Linked DNA regions of Homo sapiens: region 1 is linked to region 2. Evidence: fine-mapped expression QTL. Tissue or cell type: prefrontal cortex. Region 2 holds a variant in brackets; the other region holds the start of a gene. All regions are shown on one strand. Distances are from middle to middle.

Region 1 (8,183 bases), 92 kb before region 2:
CATCATACATAATTCATTCACTCATTTTCCATTCACAAATGAAAGTGCTTAGTATAGACTAGGCACTGACAATACAGAGGTGAATATGAGAGACTTCTACTCTCAAGGCAAATTAAGAAACACCATTTTAAAAGAACTAGAGGAAATTTAAGAATAGTCAAAATATGTATCTAGTCCACATTTAAATGGATATAGACATAAATAGCTAATTGAATTATCCATTTATATTTTGTCTTAGTCCACTCCATAAATCACAGTAGTAACTAATATTATCCTTACCTATTTTATTGTTTGCCTTTCTTCCACATCTACAGTAACAACAGCCTACCAGAGCTCCTATTCTCAACAGAGGGAATAGAAGCAATCTCTAGTGGCTGGTTAGTGTTTTAAAGTCCAACTGGTGAGTCTGATGCCACTTTTTGACAATCAGTGCCTTAGGAAAGCTGAACCACTCTAATTACAAGGGCAGGAGGGAAAAGGAACAAAAGAATAGGTTTCAAATTTCCCAAGAACCACTTCTGGATAATTGTCCTTTATGTTAAAAACATTCTATTTGGAATTTGATACAGTGAGAAAATGGTACTGTTCTGGCTATTTTTAGTCAAAACCAAAATCATTAATTTACAAAGTTTTATACTATAGTAAGATCTGTTAACATAATTTATAAATATTTGGAAAATCCTAGAAAGGTGAACTACTAAAATACTAACAAATATTTCTTCATCTTTATCTGTTCAGATGTTATATACTAACACATTAGTGCTATCACAATTGACTTAAACTTTTTAAAAGCCATCAGACAATATCTAATAACAGCCATAAACATTTACCCCAGCAATTTCATTTTATGAGCTACACTCCAAGGAAATAACCAAAAAGGAAGAAAGAATAATTCATACAAAGATATGCAGAGCAGTACTTCTAAGAATGGTGAAACATGTTGGAAACAAAATATCCAGCAATAGAGGTAATTGGTGAGTGGACTCAGCAAGATATTTCAGGGATAGGCAACAAAAAAATAAAATGTACAAAAAGTTAACATTGTAAAAACATGCTATCTGAAGTGAGCAAACTTCCTGAGCTCTGATTCTGCATACACAAGAATCATTTACAGAGCCTCTTAAATGCAAAGTCTAAAATAAAAAGTAAAATATTAAAAAAAAAAAAAAACAGAGTTCAAGAACCCACCCAGAGATCGAAATTCACTCGATGGATTTGGGTTTGGGTTTGGGACCCAGAACTCTGCATTTTAAACAAACACTCCAAGTGAGTCTGATGCAGATAACTAGGACCTACACATTGGGAAACAACTCTTGAGGGCAAGGACAAAATCCATTTCATTTTTGTAATCCTTGAGTTTAATGCATCATAGTCATTCCATAAAAGCTTGAACTGAATATGCTTTAATTTGCATGAATGCTCAAAAAATTGAACCCAGTGAGAGATGACAAACGGCGCAAACCTTAGACTAGGAATCTGTCTTCATCATACTTACATTAATGCACATAACTCATGCAGCAAACAAAAACTGATATAGACTTTATTGGTCTGGTGGTCCATGTGGAAAAATATAACAGTATTTTCAATTCTTGGCTACTAGATATTACTAAACAAACAGAAAACTCAATTTCCCTGCTTCAGAATGCTTAACATTAAAAGATGTTTTGGCTGGGCATGGTGGCTCACGCCTGTAATCCCAACACTTTGGGAGACTGAGGTGAGCAGATCGCTTGAGGTCAGGAGTTCGAGACCAGCCTGGTCAACATGATGAAACCCTGTCTCTACTAAACATACAAAAATTAGCCAGGCATAGTGACATGCACCTGTAGTCCCAGCTACTCTACTTAGGAGGCTGATGCAGGAGAATCCTTTGAACCTGGGAGGCAGAGATTGCAGTGAGCCCAGATCGCACCACTGCACTCCAGCCTGGGCAACAGAGCGAGACTCTGTCTCAAAAACAAACAAACAAGAAAACAAAAATAAAAGATGTTTTAAAAAGTAGCTAAATTCTGAAATACTTACAGGAGACATGTAATAAGGTGTGCCAACAAATGTTTTTGCAAAACTCGTGTCATGGTTTAATATTCTAGCTAGCCCAAAGTCTCCAAGCTTGACGTTTTGCTTGCCATCCAGGAAAACATTGGCTGGTTTCAGATCCCGATGCAATACGGTATGACCACCATCACTTCGTCTGTGGCATTCCTTCAGGGCCAGAGTCAACTGAGTCATCACTCGAAGAACAAACTCTTCATCTAAGTATTGCCTAAAACCAAAGCAGTTATACAGCATATAACTTCTAAAAAAATCATTGCCAAGATGGGATGATATAAATTATCCAGTGTACAAATAGGGAATTTATTTATTTATTTATTTATATTTTTTGAGACAGGGTCTTACTCTGTCACCCAGGCTGGAATGCAGTGGCACGATCATGGCTCACTGCAGCCTCGACCTCCCAGGCTCAAGCAATCCTCTTGCCTTAGCCTCCCAAGTAGCTTGGACTACAGGCACATGTCACTATACCTGGCTAATTTTTGTAGAAACAGGGTCCCACTATGTTGCCCAGGCTGGTCTTGAAATCCTGGGCTCAAGTGATCCTCCCGCATCGGCCTCCCAAAGTGTTGGGATTACAGGTGTGAGCCACCACACTCAGCCTATAAATTGTTATTTTGATATAAAATATGGGTGTTGATTCACCAGGAATTTTCTAAAGTACTGTGGACCTACCAAACAAATACAAATACACTCTTCCATATTACTGATCCTAAAACAAGATGCTTAAAATAAATGAAACTAGACCAATTTCAGCTTACATTTTTAAAAGATTATGCTTACCTTTCCTTGGTTCCCTTTGTAATTACACTAGCCAGATCCCCTCCTTCACAATATTCCATTACAATGTACAGTGTTGTATTGGTCCGGTCAATAATCCGATCATAGTAACGAACGATGTTTGGATGTTTCAGTTCACGAAGCAAATTCACTTCAGAAACAAGCATCTGTTTCTCAGCTTCTGTCATGGAGCCATAGTCAAGTTCTTTCCAAACTAATATCTGAAATAAGAATTTCCAAGGTATGAATGAACTCATTATGCTCAAAAACAAAGAATGAAAGTTCCAAGATTTAACAAATTACCTCCCTTTTAATTATATCCTACAATCAAGGTCATTATCTAATTTAGTTCAATGAACTTAAGGAGCTGTGAGTTTACTTCCATAATCTTCCTCCAGTTCTAAGCAGTAAATGTATGTTGTGGGGAGACAAACGGGAATGAGGCACATGAGGACTCCCCCAACCCCTACCCTCAGTTGGTTAGTGGGAAGTTGGCTAAAAGGTACTATAGTCAAAATTGGGGTGAAGGTGGTCAAAGTCCCTGCCCCATTCCACCCCAGTCGTGTTTTCCCAGGATGAGACACCTTGGTAAAGATCCCTCCATCAGCAGCCAGGCAGTTTCCTGTCCAATGTTACTTTCTGTAAAAGTTCTACCTATATACATTGGGAAATATGAATCCAATAATCCTAATAATGGATATTTTGAGGGAGTCTGACTGCAGATACAAAGCTTCGGGTTCTGGTAGTCCTGCCCCTTTCTTGTGCCTGAGAGGGCCACTCTTAGAGCTCTAAAAACAGCTCAGGAATTAGTTACCTGTCACCAATGGAAGGTCCTTAGCAAGCCAAAGCAGGAGAAAGAGAGAAATGGGGAGAGAAACGGGAAAAGATGGAAATACATATATCAAAAGAAGCGGTCTCCCATCCTTTAAGCCACCCAGGACAGGCTGTCAGATGCAGACCCAGGAAAGACGGTTTAGTCTTCCGGGCACCCATTTCCTCAGCCCTGTCGGTTCCCTTCGGTGGCGCAGGGCGCTCGCCCCGAGGCGACGAAACCTAAGCAGGGGCAGGCGCAGGGTAGGTCCCACGCTCACCTTGCCATCACTCTTCCTCCGGATCTTCTGGCAGCGGCCGTAGGAGCCTGTGCCAATGGTGTACAACACTTCATAGTCCTCAGCCCGGGAAGGCATGGCCGGCCAGTCGCCAGAGTCGCGCTGCCTCACGCAGGTTGCGCCGCCAAGTGCGGAGCTCCAGGGACCAGGAACTCCAGGGACCTGGATGGAGAAGCCCCCGAGCAGCACTGACCCGCCACCCCTGCCTTGGGCCCCGTTTAACCGTCGCGGGCCCTGATCTCGCAGTCTATTGGCAGGCGGTGGGCCGCTTCGCCTCTCTCATTGGCTAAGAAGAACACAACAATACCCTAGGCATTTTGGGAAAAGTGTCACTAGGCAACCGCGTCGGCGTCTGCTTTTAACCTGTGGGAGAACCCGGCGAGCTAAGCCAAACGGAGGGCGGGAGAGAGGAAGCGGCAGCTGGCGCCTCTCGGCAACTCTAACCCTCTGATAGAGATCGCCAAGGTAACCGAGATCTAAGGTCCTCCCCTCAGGCTTCTTTGCACACCGCTTCCACCAGATGCCTTCTGACCTTTGCACTCTGGCCCCTCACACTACCTACTCTCCCCGGCACACGCATTCCTCGCTCAGGTTCCAGTACCCTGAACCTGGGTGGGGTCACGTTGAGGATATGCTGAGAGCTGAATACAAATTAGAAATACAGACTCCCGGGTGGGCGCGGTGACTCACGCTCGCCCGTAACCCTAGCACTTTGGGAAGCCGAGGTGGGTGGGTCGCTTGAGCCCAGGAGTTCAGACCAGCCTGGGCAACAGGGCAAACCTCGTCTCTACTGAAAATACGAAAATTAGGCCGGGCGCTGTGGCTCACGCCTATAATCCTAGCACTTTGGGAGGCCGAGGCGGGCGGATTGCTCGAGGCCAAGAGTTCAAGACCAGCCTGGCCAACATGGCGAAACCCCGTCTCTACTAAAAATGAAAAAAAAAAAAAAAAAAGTAACAGAGCATGGGGTTGCAGGCCTGTAATCCCAGCTTCTTGGGAGGCTGAGGCATGAGGAATTGCTTGAACCTGGGAGGCAGAGGTTACAGTGAGCCGTGCGCCACTGCACTCCAGCCTGGGCGACAGAGTGACACCCAGTCTCCAAAAAAAAAAAAAAAAGGAGAAATACTGTCGCTCTCCTACCAAGTACTTTACACGTCTTGTCCCGTTTATGTGTGCCAAATACACAATTAACCCTATCGACAATACTTCATTGAACACAGATTCTCTTTTACGCACCCACACACCAACGTTCTCAGCTTACCCAGCCAAATGAACAGCCCCATGTTTACCAGGGAAGGAGGACTTAGAGGCCTCCATCCAGGGCTTGTTAGAGGAATATGTAAATTACCAGAAAGCTAATAATTTGGAAATGCATGAACAGGCCAGTTTTCTTTAAATATCTGTTCAGCAAAGGATTAAAAGACACCTGATTTTCTATTAATAAGAATTTAAAAGCTCTTTATGTAAAAATAAGGGACTTATTACATGCCCTGAATATAACATAAGATAATTGGAATTGCCAACCAGGAGAATTTTTAAATTAACATTCAAGGGCACTGTCTTACCTCAGGGGAATAGGACCAATTTAGGTTTCAAAAGTTATGTAAGGCACTGCAAGTGGCTGTGTTAATTAGCATCATTTTTTTATTTTTGTGCCTCTTACAGATTGGTATCCATAGAGCTTGCTGTGGTTTGAATGTATCCCCCAAAGTTCATGTGTTGGAAACTATTCTTAATGCAAAAGTGTTAAGAGGTGAGACCTTTAAATTGATTGGGTTATGAGGGCTACCCCTCACGAATGGATTAACGTAATCACAGGAGTGGGTTATCTTGAGAGTCGGTTGGTTATAAAAATGAGTTTGGCTTTCCCTTGCTGTTTCTCTTACCATGTGATGCCTTCTGCTATTTTATGACCCAGAGAAAAGGCTGCTGCCAGATGCTACCCCTTGATCTTGGACTTCCTAGCTTCCAGAACCGTGAGCCAAATAAACTATTGTTTATAAATTGTCCAGTCTGTGGCATCCTATTATAGCAACATGAAACTGTATAAGACAGAGCCCTGGCCGGGCACGGTGGCTCACACCTGTAATCCCAGCACGTTGGGAGGTCAAGGCGGGTGGATTACGAGGTCAGGAGTTCAAGATCAGCCCGGCCAACATGGTGAACCCCGTCTCTACTAAAAATACAAAAATTAGACACAATGGCAGGCACCTGTAATCCCAGCTACTCGGGAGGCTGAGGCAGAAGAATCGCTTGAACCCAGGTGGCAGAGGTTGCAGTGAGTGGAGATCACACCACTGCACTCCAGCCTAGGCGACAGAGTGAGACTCCGTCTCAAGAAAAAAAAAAAAAAAAAAATGAGCCGTTTGGTTATCCTGCCCCAAATCCAGTCCTGCACCTTCTCTCTGGCCACTTCTGCTTTTGCTCTAAACGCACACTTTCTCAGTTCCTCACCACCACCACCATCTTTGCACCTGTGATTGCATTTGTCCAGAATACTGTCCAACCCACTCCCTTATCCACTCCAGTCATGTCTGCCCAGAGGACATAACGTGTCCTTCAAGATTCAATTCCAACTTTTTCTCCTGTAATCTGAGAAGCCTCTCTGGCGTACTTGGACAGTCAATCCTCCATCTACAGTGTTCATAGACCACTTTATACATAAATCAAAACTTATCATTATTTGTTTACATGGCTCTCACAGTAGCTGAACTCCGAACTGCTTATAGCCAGCATAAGTCCTGTAATAGAGAAGGCATGCAATAAAGCTTCGTTAAATAAAAATCTGCGAAAGCCCCTTATTAATAATTATGCAAGGATTTTGAGTGGGCCCTCAAGTACTCAATTGCCAAATGCCCCAGCTCTAGGCAGAGACGAAATATCTGGAAAGGAGCCATCCCAAGAGTATGGAATGTGGCTCCTACGCACATATGCTCATTTAACAAGTATTTATTGAGCACTTGCTATGGCCCAGGTATGATAGGTATTGACATGCTGGCTTTTCATTTAAAAAAAGACAGTGGAGCCCCAAAGACAATAATAAAGAGTAGCACAGGAGGCTGGGTGTGGTGTCTCATGCCTGTAATCCCAGCCTTTTGGGAGGCCGAGGCAGGCGGATCACCTGAGGTCAGGAGTTCAAGACCAGCGTGGCCAATAAGGTGAAACCCCGCCTCTACTAAAAATACAAAAATTAGCTGGGTGTGGCCAGTATGGTGAAACCCTGCCTTTACTAAAAATACAAAAATAGCTGGGTGTGGTGGCACGTCTGTAGTCCCAGCTACTTGGGTGGCTGAGGCAGGAGAATCGCTTGAACTTGGGAGGCAGAGGTTGCAGTGAGCCAAGATTGCACTACCACACTCCAGCCTGCTCAACAGACCGAGACCCTGTCTCAAAAAAAAAAAAAAAAAAAAAAAAAAAAAAAAAGTCCGGGCACGGTGGCTCAAGCCTGTAATCCCAGCACTTTGGGAGGCCAAGGTGGGCGGATCATGAGGTCAGGAGATCGAGACCATCCTGGCTAACATGGTGAAACCCAGCCTCTACTAAAAATACAAAAAAATTAGCTGGGTGTGGTGGCAGGCGCCTGCAGTCCCAGTTACTGGGGAGGCTGAGGCAGGAGAATGGCGTGAACCCGGGAGGCGGAGCTTGCAGTGAGCCGAGATCGCGCCACTGCACTCCAGCCTGGGCGACAGAGCAAGACTCCGTCTCAAAAAAAAGAAAAAAAAAAAGGGTAGCATAGGAATCACTCACATGACAAACCCTAAAGGTTGGCCAGAGTTAGCCCGCATCATGAGTGAGGGCAGGACAGCCCAGCAGAGACCACTAGACACCAGAATAGAAAGAGACACTGGGAGATGAGAAGCATGTGGGAGTCAAACAGGGACAGGTTACAGGGAACATCCTTTCCCCTATAACTTCTTTCCTTTTTCCTTCATATTCCATCCATTCTTTAAGTCTCAGCTCATGCCCAATTTCTTCTCTGAAATTTTTCCTGATTGACTTCAACCCACTATGATCTATCTTCTAATTACTCTTAAGAGTAATCAACTGTGTTTTTACTCATTTAGAATTATACTAGGCCATATTACTAGCTTCTCATGTGCATGTATCTTCTCTGCCTTATTAAATGGAAAATTCATCCTCCAACAAGTATAAATAGAGGCTGAGTCAGGTGCCAGATGCTGAGGATACCACAGTGAATAGGACAGACATATAGTCCTGTAGGTGGAAGAGATGGATGTAACC
Region 2 (8,183 bases):
TCCTACTACGGCAGGTAAGAATTTGACTATCTTAAACCATTGTCCTCTTCTCCTTCAGCTTCCTCCTTCTCCTCTCCTAGATAATTAAAAATTCCTTCTTGGGCTGGGTGCCATGGCTCATGCCTGTAATCCCAGCACTTTGAGAGGCCAAGGCGGGTGGATCACCTGAGGTCAGGAGTTTGAGACCAGCCTGGCCAAAATGGTGAAACTCTGTCTCTACTAAAAATACAAAAATTAGCTGAGCGTGATGGCATGTGCCTGTAATCCCAGCTATGTGGGAGGCTGAGGCAGGAGAATCACTTGAACCCAGGAGGCAAAGGTTGCAGCAAGCTGAGATCATGCCACTGCACTGCAGCCTAGGCGACTAGAGAGAGACTCCATCTCAAAAAAAAAAAAAAAATCCTTCTCAGTGCCAACTGTCTTTTGTAACTGTGTCTATGATTATACCTATTAGTTTGTGCTCTATTTATTTTCTCATGTGCCTGTTTTGTCTAACAGACTGCGCTATTCTCAGCTTTGCACCCAGTGTATAAATCAGTGCCTAGTCCTTAGTAGGAACTCAGGTTTGCTGAACAGAATTAAATTACAGTAATCTGTGAGCACAAAACTTTATGTGGTGTCATCTGTAGACAATCATCAATGTTCATGGACACTACCAGGGTTAGTGTGGCAACAATAACTCAGAAATCCAGAAACTACTTGTTACAAAAAATAGATTTATGGACAAAAACAGAAACTGTCAAATTTAACGTATCAGAATATCTCCCAGCATTCAATTCCCAGAAGTTTTACTTTAAGCCATTATCCTGAGCTAAGCTGTTAGGCCTAACAACATACTAAAATGTAATATTTATAGCTTCCCCCTGGAACTATTAGAACAGTTTAAAAAAGAAATCACTCAGTTATCTGAAAATAAATTTCAGAAACTCAAATATGAACTTTTACCTACTTTAATACAGGAAATAAACCAAGGCAGGTATTTCCAAAGACTATACAGGTAGCAAACCTAGGGACATACCAGCAGATACTTTTGAGTGACTTTAAAGTTTGTGTAGATAGGAAGATGGCAAATACTTAGCACCTAGGCCACTGCTTCCCCTTCTCAGTCAAGGATAACTGAGCCCTCCTCTTGAGCCTTGTTCCTTGCAACAGTCAAGAGCCCTCAAAATGCCATTTGGAGATACAAACAATGAGATGGCATTTTTAGAACTGGAATTTATTATATCTTTATTAATTTTATATCCTTTGAGACACACAGTAAGATGCTTAACAAATGCTTGCTGATTGAGCAGAAGTGAACTCTCCGGTAAGCAAAATCTGACATTGGTTTCTCTGCTTAAGAGAATCACTATTACACTTTCCATGTGTCTAACGATGTTTTTAAACTTTTTATTTTGAAATAATTTCAGACTCAAAGAAAAGTTGTAAAAATAGTATAAAAATTCTCATATGCTTCACCCAGATTCCCCAAATGTTAATATTTCTCACATTTGCTTTACTTTGTCATTCTCTCTATCCATATCTATTTTTTCTGTCATTTTTTTCACTCAAATTTTGAGAATAAGTTAAATGAAAAGGTTAGACAAAAAGATCTAGGTAGTCCTTCCATTTCTCAGATTCAATGACTAAGTAAAAAATAAACAGCAATTATCAGTGAGAATTATGTTTAACCATTGTCCAATTAAAATTAAAACCCTAGGAATTTTTGTATTTGGGGGCATAATATTTCCAACAAAACTATATTAGAAAATAAGAGGTATTTTTGGAATAACAATGGCACTTTGCTAGACCTTAAGAAGACCTAAAAGTGAAAAAGACATGGTAAACCCCCAAAGAGTCAAGGAGGTGGGGAGAGAATTCTTTATTTCCAATGCTTATTTCCAGTTACTTACCAAATTATAATATTTTCAAGATCATATTATATCCACATTCATCTATTGATAATAACCCAGTAAATTAGCTTTGTCTGTTATTATTTTAGTTCTATGTGTATAGGTTAATTTTTCATATCTGGGCTAAGTCTAGACTGGGCTAAGGGATGCCCAGATAGCTGGTAAAACATTATTTCTAAGTGTGTCTGTGTGTGTGTTTCTGGAAGAAAATAGCATCTGAATTGATGAATTGAGTAAAGTGGACACTCCCTTCCCCCGCAATGTGGGAAGGCAACATTTAATCCATTGAGGGCCCAAGGAGAACAAAAAGGTAGAGGAAGGGCAAATTTACTCTCTCTGCTTGAGCTGGGCCATACATCTTCTCCTCCCCTTCAACATCAGTGCTCCTGGTTCCTGGGCTTTCAGACTGAGACTGGGACTTACACAGTTAGTACCCCAATTCTCAAGGCCTTTTGACTTGGACCAGGACTTACACCATCAGCTCCCCAGTTCTTCGGCTTTCAGACTTAGACTAGAACTGACAACGTTGGCTCCCTTGGTTCTCAGTCCTTCAGGCTTGGACCGGAACGACACCACTGGCTTTCCCAGGCCTCCAGCTTACAGACAGCAGACTGTGGGACTTCTCAGCAGCCATAATCACATGAGCCAATTTCTCATAATAAATCTCTTTCTACATATCTTTATACAGATGATCCTTGACTTACAACGGGGTTACATTGTGATAAACCCATTGTAAGTCGAAAATGCATTTAATACACCTAACCTACTGAACATCATAGCTTAACCTAGCATACCTTAAATGTGCTGAGAACATTTACATTAAACTACAGTTGGGCAATCATCTAACACAAAGCCTATTCTATAATAAAGTGTTTAATACTGCACACAGATGGGCATTTTGTAGAGATGATGGGATGTGAAAACAAAAAACACAATATCCAAAAAGTACTGGCAACACAGTACACTGTGGAGTATTGGTTGTTTACCCTCATGATCATGTGGCTGACTGGGAGCTGCAGCTCACTGCCACTGCCCAGTATCTCCAGAGAGTAGTGTACCGCATATCACTAGCCTGGGAAAAGATCAAAATTCAAGATTCAAATTGTGGTATCTACTGAACGTCTATTACTTTCACACCATCATAAAGTCAAAAAATCATGAAGTTAACTACCTTAAGTCAGGGACCATCTATATGTCCTATTGATTCTGTTTCTCTGGAGAACCCTGACTTATTATGGTAACATAAAAAATTTCTTTCATGTATACTTTTTCTAAATATCTGAAATTAGGCATATCTTCCAATTAGAGAATAGAAATTTTACCTTATTTGTAAGGATGATTCACCTGATTCTTCAACATCATTACAGAAACACAGAATTTGATTCACAATATAGCTAAACCTCAATTAAGACCACTTATTTCATGTCTCCATCCTGAATGACATCAAACTGAAAAGTTTTTTTCTTTTTTTCTTTTGAGACATGGTCTCACTCTGTCACCCAGGTTGGAATGCAGTGGCATGATCTTGGCTCACTGCAACCTCTGCCTCCTGGGTTCAAGTGATTCTCCTGCCTCAGCCTCCCAAGTAGCTGAGATTAGAGGCACATGTCACCATGCCCAGCTAATTTTTTTTTTAGTAGAGATGAGATTTCACTATGTTGGCCAGGCTGATCTCGAACTCCTGACCTCAAGTGATCCATTCACCTCGGCCTCCCAAAGTGCTGGGATTACAGGCATGAGCCATCATACCCAGCCTGAAAAGTTTTATTAGTTTTTTTTGAAGCAAAGGGGGAAAACCTGCTGGTGTGGAAAATAAAAACTTTTAGGCAGTGAACATTTAATAACAACAGTGAAGCAGAACTAAAAACTTGTTTAAAGTTAATATGTAATTTTCCATTTTCCAACTGGTAGCTCTGAACAGTGACTGATGGCGAAAAACATACAGACTTCTCTAGGGAAGAGCAGGATATGGAGGCAAAGCAATAAAAAACAAGTGATGATAAGAAAAGCAGAAAAGAAGAAGAAAATTATTAGATAGCTGAAGTAGAGATGAAATTATCAATAATTATAAGCAATGATAGAGAAAAGTCCTAGCATAAGAAAAACTAAAGATAGGACACTGTTTCCTTCTACTGGGGAAAAAATGAAACTATTAGCTCAAAAATCCTTAAAGGCAATATTATCATTAGGTGAGTAATTTTGGGGCTGGGGCTGAGGGTGGCAAAGACCTGAACATATATCATTACTGTACCCGAGGGTGTATACCTTAGAGTTACTCTCAGTTATTACAAAAAGTTGACCTAAAAGTTGGTCCCCAATATGTTGAATAACTGATTTTTACTATATTAATTTTATTTTACTTTGTTCTAACTTTTATGTCAAAAA[A/G]GAATTATGTAAATTAAAATCTCTTAAAGCTCAGTTTTAAATTATGGATAAAACACTAGAATATGAAAATCTAGACTATGTAATTTGAGTATTTCAATATCCTTGATTTAAAAGGGAAAAACCTATTTAGTATCTTATTAAATGGTATGCATTTGAAATGTGAGCTTATTAAATTTTTATACCTACCAGATGAAAATGCTTTTGTTGCAATTATTCAAATAGTTATTAAACCAAAATCCTAAATTCTGTGGGCAATTTCTTTTTTGAATTAGTTATTTTTAATTGAAGAATACATGCATATTGTAAAAAACACTCAAATAGTACAATGAAAAGTACGAGTCCCTCCCCAGAGGCACCCACTGTCAACAGTTGAGCTCTAACCACATGGCAGCCACTATGCTGCCTGCTCTTTTTTTGTGGGGCAGGGAAAGGAACAACATTTATCGTTTAGACTTTTGTTTGAAGTGCTGCCTGCCAAATGTCCAATTAAATTATAGCCAGTGCATTATTACATTGATTTTAAGATGTCTCCCAATTTCAGAGACGTTAATATGTGTCAAAACACATATCTCTATCGTGTGGTTTTCAGAGCTTAATTCTGGTATCTATGGTGTGACATTATCTCTATGAAATGAGCTTTGAATACCATTTTTATAATGCTCAAATACAAGAAATATCATTAGAAAATCATCCCAAATCCTCTTAAGCATATTAGACTGAGGGGAACAACTGCAATTTGAAGTAGGGTGGTAAGAGGACATTTGAGCAGGCCTGAAGGCAGTGATGGTGATTTTCATACAGATTTCCAAGGGAAGACTTCTCGTGGAGGAGGAAACAGTCAGTAGGAACATGAAGTAGGAATACGTTTGGGATGTTCAGTAACAGCAAGAAAGCCAGTATAGACACAGGGGAATGACTAAGGAGTAGAAGGAAGAGGTCAAATAAGGCCTTAGATACCACTCTAAGACTTCAGGGGTTTTTAGATGGGAAGCCATGATGGAATTCTGAGCCTAGCACAGACACAATTTGACTTTTAAAAGGAGCACTCTGGATACTATGTTGGAATTCTCCAGCGGACAAAGGTAAAAATAGGATGACACACTAGGAGCTTATGTAGTAATCTAGGAGCAGGGTAGAGGTGATAGTGGCTAGGACCAGGATGAAAAGAAGTGGTCAGGGGATATGTATTTAAATTTAGAAGCAAAAAGATTTCCTGACTGAGTGGATGTGGAATATGAGAGAAAAAGAGGAGCCATGGACGACCCCAAGGCTTCTGATCTAAGTGACAGGAAGGATGGAGGCTGCTATCAATAATGAGATGGTAAAGGCTATGAAGGAGTATATATTTTTAGGAAAATCCACAGTTCAGTTTGAGAGAGTGTTATGGGAAAGGGGTCCTGATCCAGCCCGCAAGAGAGGATTTTTGGATCTCGGGCAAGAATTCAGGGTGAGTCCATAGACTAAAGTGAAAGCAAATCTATAAAGAAAGTAGAGGAATAAAAGAATGGCTACTCCATAGACAGAGCAGCCTTGATGGCTGCTGGCTGCCCATTTTTATGGTTATTTCTTAATTATACGGTAAACAAGGGGTGGATTATTCATGCCTCCCCTTTTAGACCATATAAGGTAACTTCCTGACATTTCCATGGCATTTGTAAACTGTCATGGTGCTGGCAGGAGTGTAGCAGTGAGGAAAACCAGAGGTCACTCCTGTTCCCATCTTGATTTTGGTGGGTTTTAGCCAGCTTCTTTACTGCAGCCTGTTTTATCAGGAAGGTCTCTATGACCTGTATCTTGTGCCATAACCTCTTATCCTATGACTTAGAATGCCTTAACCACCTGGGAATGCAGCCCAGTAGGTCTCAGCCTTATTCTACCCAGCCCCTACTCAAGATGGAGTTGCTCTGGTTCAAATGCCTCTGACAAGAGGACTATTAGACATACTAGTGAAGGAGTCAAACACTCAGAAATAAAAATCTGTTAAGTATATTCCTTTGAAGAATACATGATATTTTTAATGCTCTCATAACAAAAAATAATACACAATATTTTATTTAGTCATCCCTCTACTAATGGACATTTAGATTATTTCTAATTTGTTACTCTTACAAAATATCTTGCAGTAATATCCTGTCTTTCTCTAGGATATATAGCCCCAAGTAGAACTGCTATGTCATAGATAATTTAAAATATTGCTAAACTGCTCTTCAGATTGGCTGCATCGATTTGTGTGTGTTAATTTCCCTAAAAGCTCACCAATATTTGATATTGATGAGTAAAAAATAGTATTTTGCCCTGTTTTGCATTTCCCTGATCTTTTCATATATTTTTATTTCTATAAACAATGAAAAGTCTTTGTGTCTTTTGTACATTTTTCTTCTGGGTTTTAAATACTATTATTGATTTGTAAAAACCATTGAGCTGTTTACATACATAGTCATGTGCCACATGACATTTCAGTCAACGACGGACTGCATATATGACAATGGTTCCCGTAGATTATAATGGAGCTGAAAAATTCCTGTTGCCTAGTGATGTCATAGTCATTGTAATGCCATAGCACAATTACTTTATTTTTAAAATAAATTTAGTGTAGCCTATGTGTACAGTGTTTATAAAGTCTACAGTAGTATAGGGTAATATCCTAGGCCTTCACATTCACTCATCACTCACTGACTCACTCAGAGCAACTCCCAGTCCTACTAGCTCCATATATAGTAGGCGTATCATTTTAAGACTCTTTTATACTGCCCAGGCACCGTGGCTCACACCTGTAACCCTAGCACTTTGGGAGGCCAAGGTGGGTGGATCACTTGACCCCAGGAGTTCAAGATCAGCTTGGACAACATGGTAAAGCCCCATCTCTACTAAAAATACAAAAATTACCTGAGCATGGTGGCACATGCCTATAATCCCAGCTACCCGAGAGGCTGAGGTGGGAGAATCACTTGAGCCCAGGAGGTGGAGGTTGCAGTAAGCTAAGATTGCGCCACTGCACTCCAGCCTGAGCAACAGAGAGAGAGACACTATCTCAAAAAAAAAAAAAAAACAACTTTTATACGGTATTTTTACTGTACCTTTTCTATGTTTAGATACACAAATACTTACCATTGTGGTCCAATTGCCTACAGTCTTCACTACAGTGATATGATGTACAGGTCTGCAGCCTAGAAGCAAAAGGCTATGCCATATAGCCTAGGTGTGTAGTAGGTTATACCATCTAGGTTTGTCTAAGTACACCCTATGATGTTCGTACAATGATGAAATCACCTAATTTCACATTTCTCAGAAGGTATCCCTGTCATTAAGTGACACATGACTGTATACTCAATACTTATTTTTGTTATGTGCACTTCAAACACTTTATTGTGTCTCTTGAACACTCTAGTTTTTAGATTTTTTTTTTAATTGGACATTTTATTTTTATTCACTTATTTTTATTATTATTATTTTTTTGAGACAGAGTCTCACTCTGTCACCCAGGCTGGAGTGCAGTGGCGCTATTTCAGCTCACTGCATCCTCCGCCTCCTGGGTTCAAGCAATTCTCATGACTCAGCCTCCCGAGTAGCTGGGATTACAGGCGCTCACCACCATACCAGCTAATTTTTTGTAGTTTTAGTACAGATGGGGTTACCACATTGGCCAGGCTGGTCTCAAACTCCTGACCTCAAGGGATCTGCCTGCCTCAGGCCTCCCAAAGTGCTGGGATTACAGGCGTGAGCGACCGTGCTGCCCAGCCTAGTTTTTAGTTTTGATGTACTCATATTTATCTTTTCCTTAATGACTTATGACTTCTGATTTCTGGGTCTTGTAAGGAAGGGGTACCCTACTTGAAGACATTAAGAGTCTCCTATATTTTCTTCAAATACTTTATTTTTATTTTTTAGAGAAACCCTGTTTCACTA

Which allele goes with the higher level. Alleles are on the strand shown, and positions count from the first base shown. SD is a standard deviation of normalised expression in the study named.
In carriers of allele G in region 2, the expression in prefrontal cortex of the gene that starts at base 4,161 in region 1 tends to be higher than with A alone (large effect, 1.4 SD a copy in CommonMind).

Evidence for each region. PIP is the estimated chance that this variant, and not a neighbour inherited with it, causes the effect.
Region 1: it holds the start of NEK2, and the variant in region 2 is fine-mapped to the expression of NEK2 in prefrontal cortex (CommonMind, PIP 0.95).

Annotation. Positions count from the first base shown.
Region 1 is chr1:211,671,461-211,679,643 of GRCh38, forward strand. It overlaps NEK2 (NIMA related kinase 2), which reads right to left and starts at 4,161. Exons shown (of 8, transcript NM_002497.4): 1 at 3,924-4,161; 2 at 2,836-3,053; 3 at 2,023-2,263. The coding sequence starts at 4,019. NEK2-DT (NEK2 divergent transcript) reads left to right here and starts at 4,302. Exons shown (of 4, transcript NR_148994.1): 1 at 4,302-4,406; 2 at 5,607-5,694. RefSeq lists enhancers at 3,865-4,124, 4,147-4,441.
Region 2 is chr1:211,763,789-211,771,971 of GRCh38, forward strand. All of the region lies in intron 6 of LPGAT1 (lysophosphatidylglycerol acyltransferase 1), which reads right to left. Among named protein-coding and RNA genes, the nearest start is that of LPGAT1, 63 kb to the right of the region's middle. RefSeq lists an enhancer at 1,775-1,944. The variant A/G (reference allele first, on the strand shown) is at 4,278.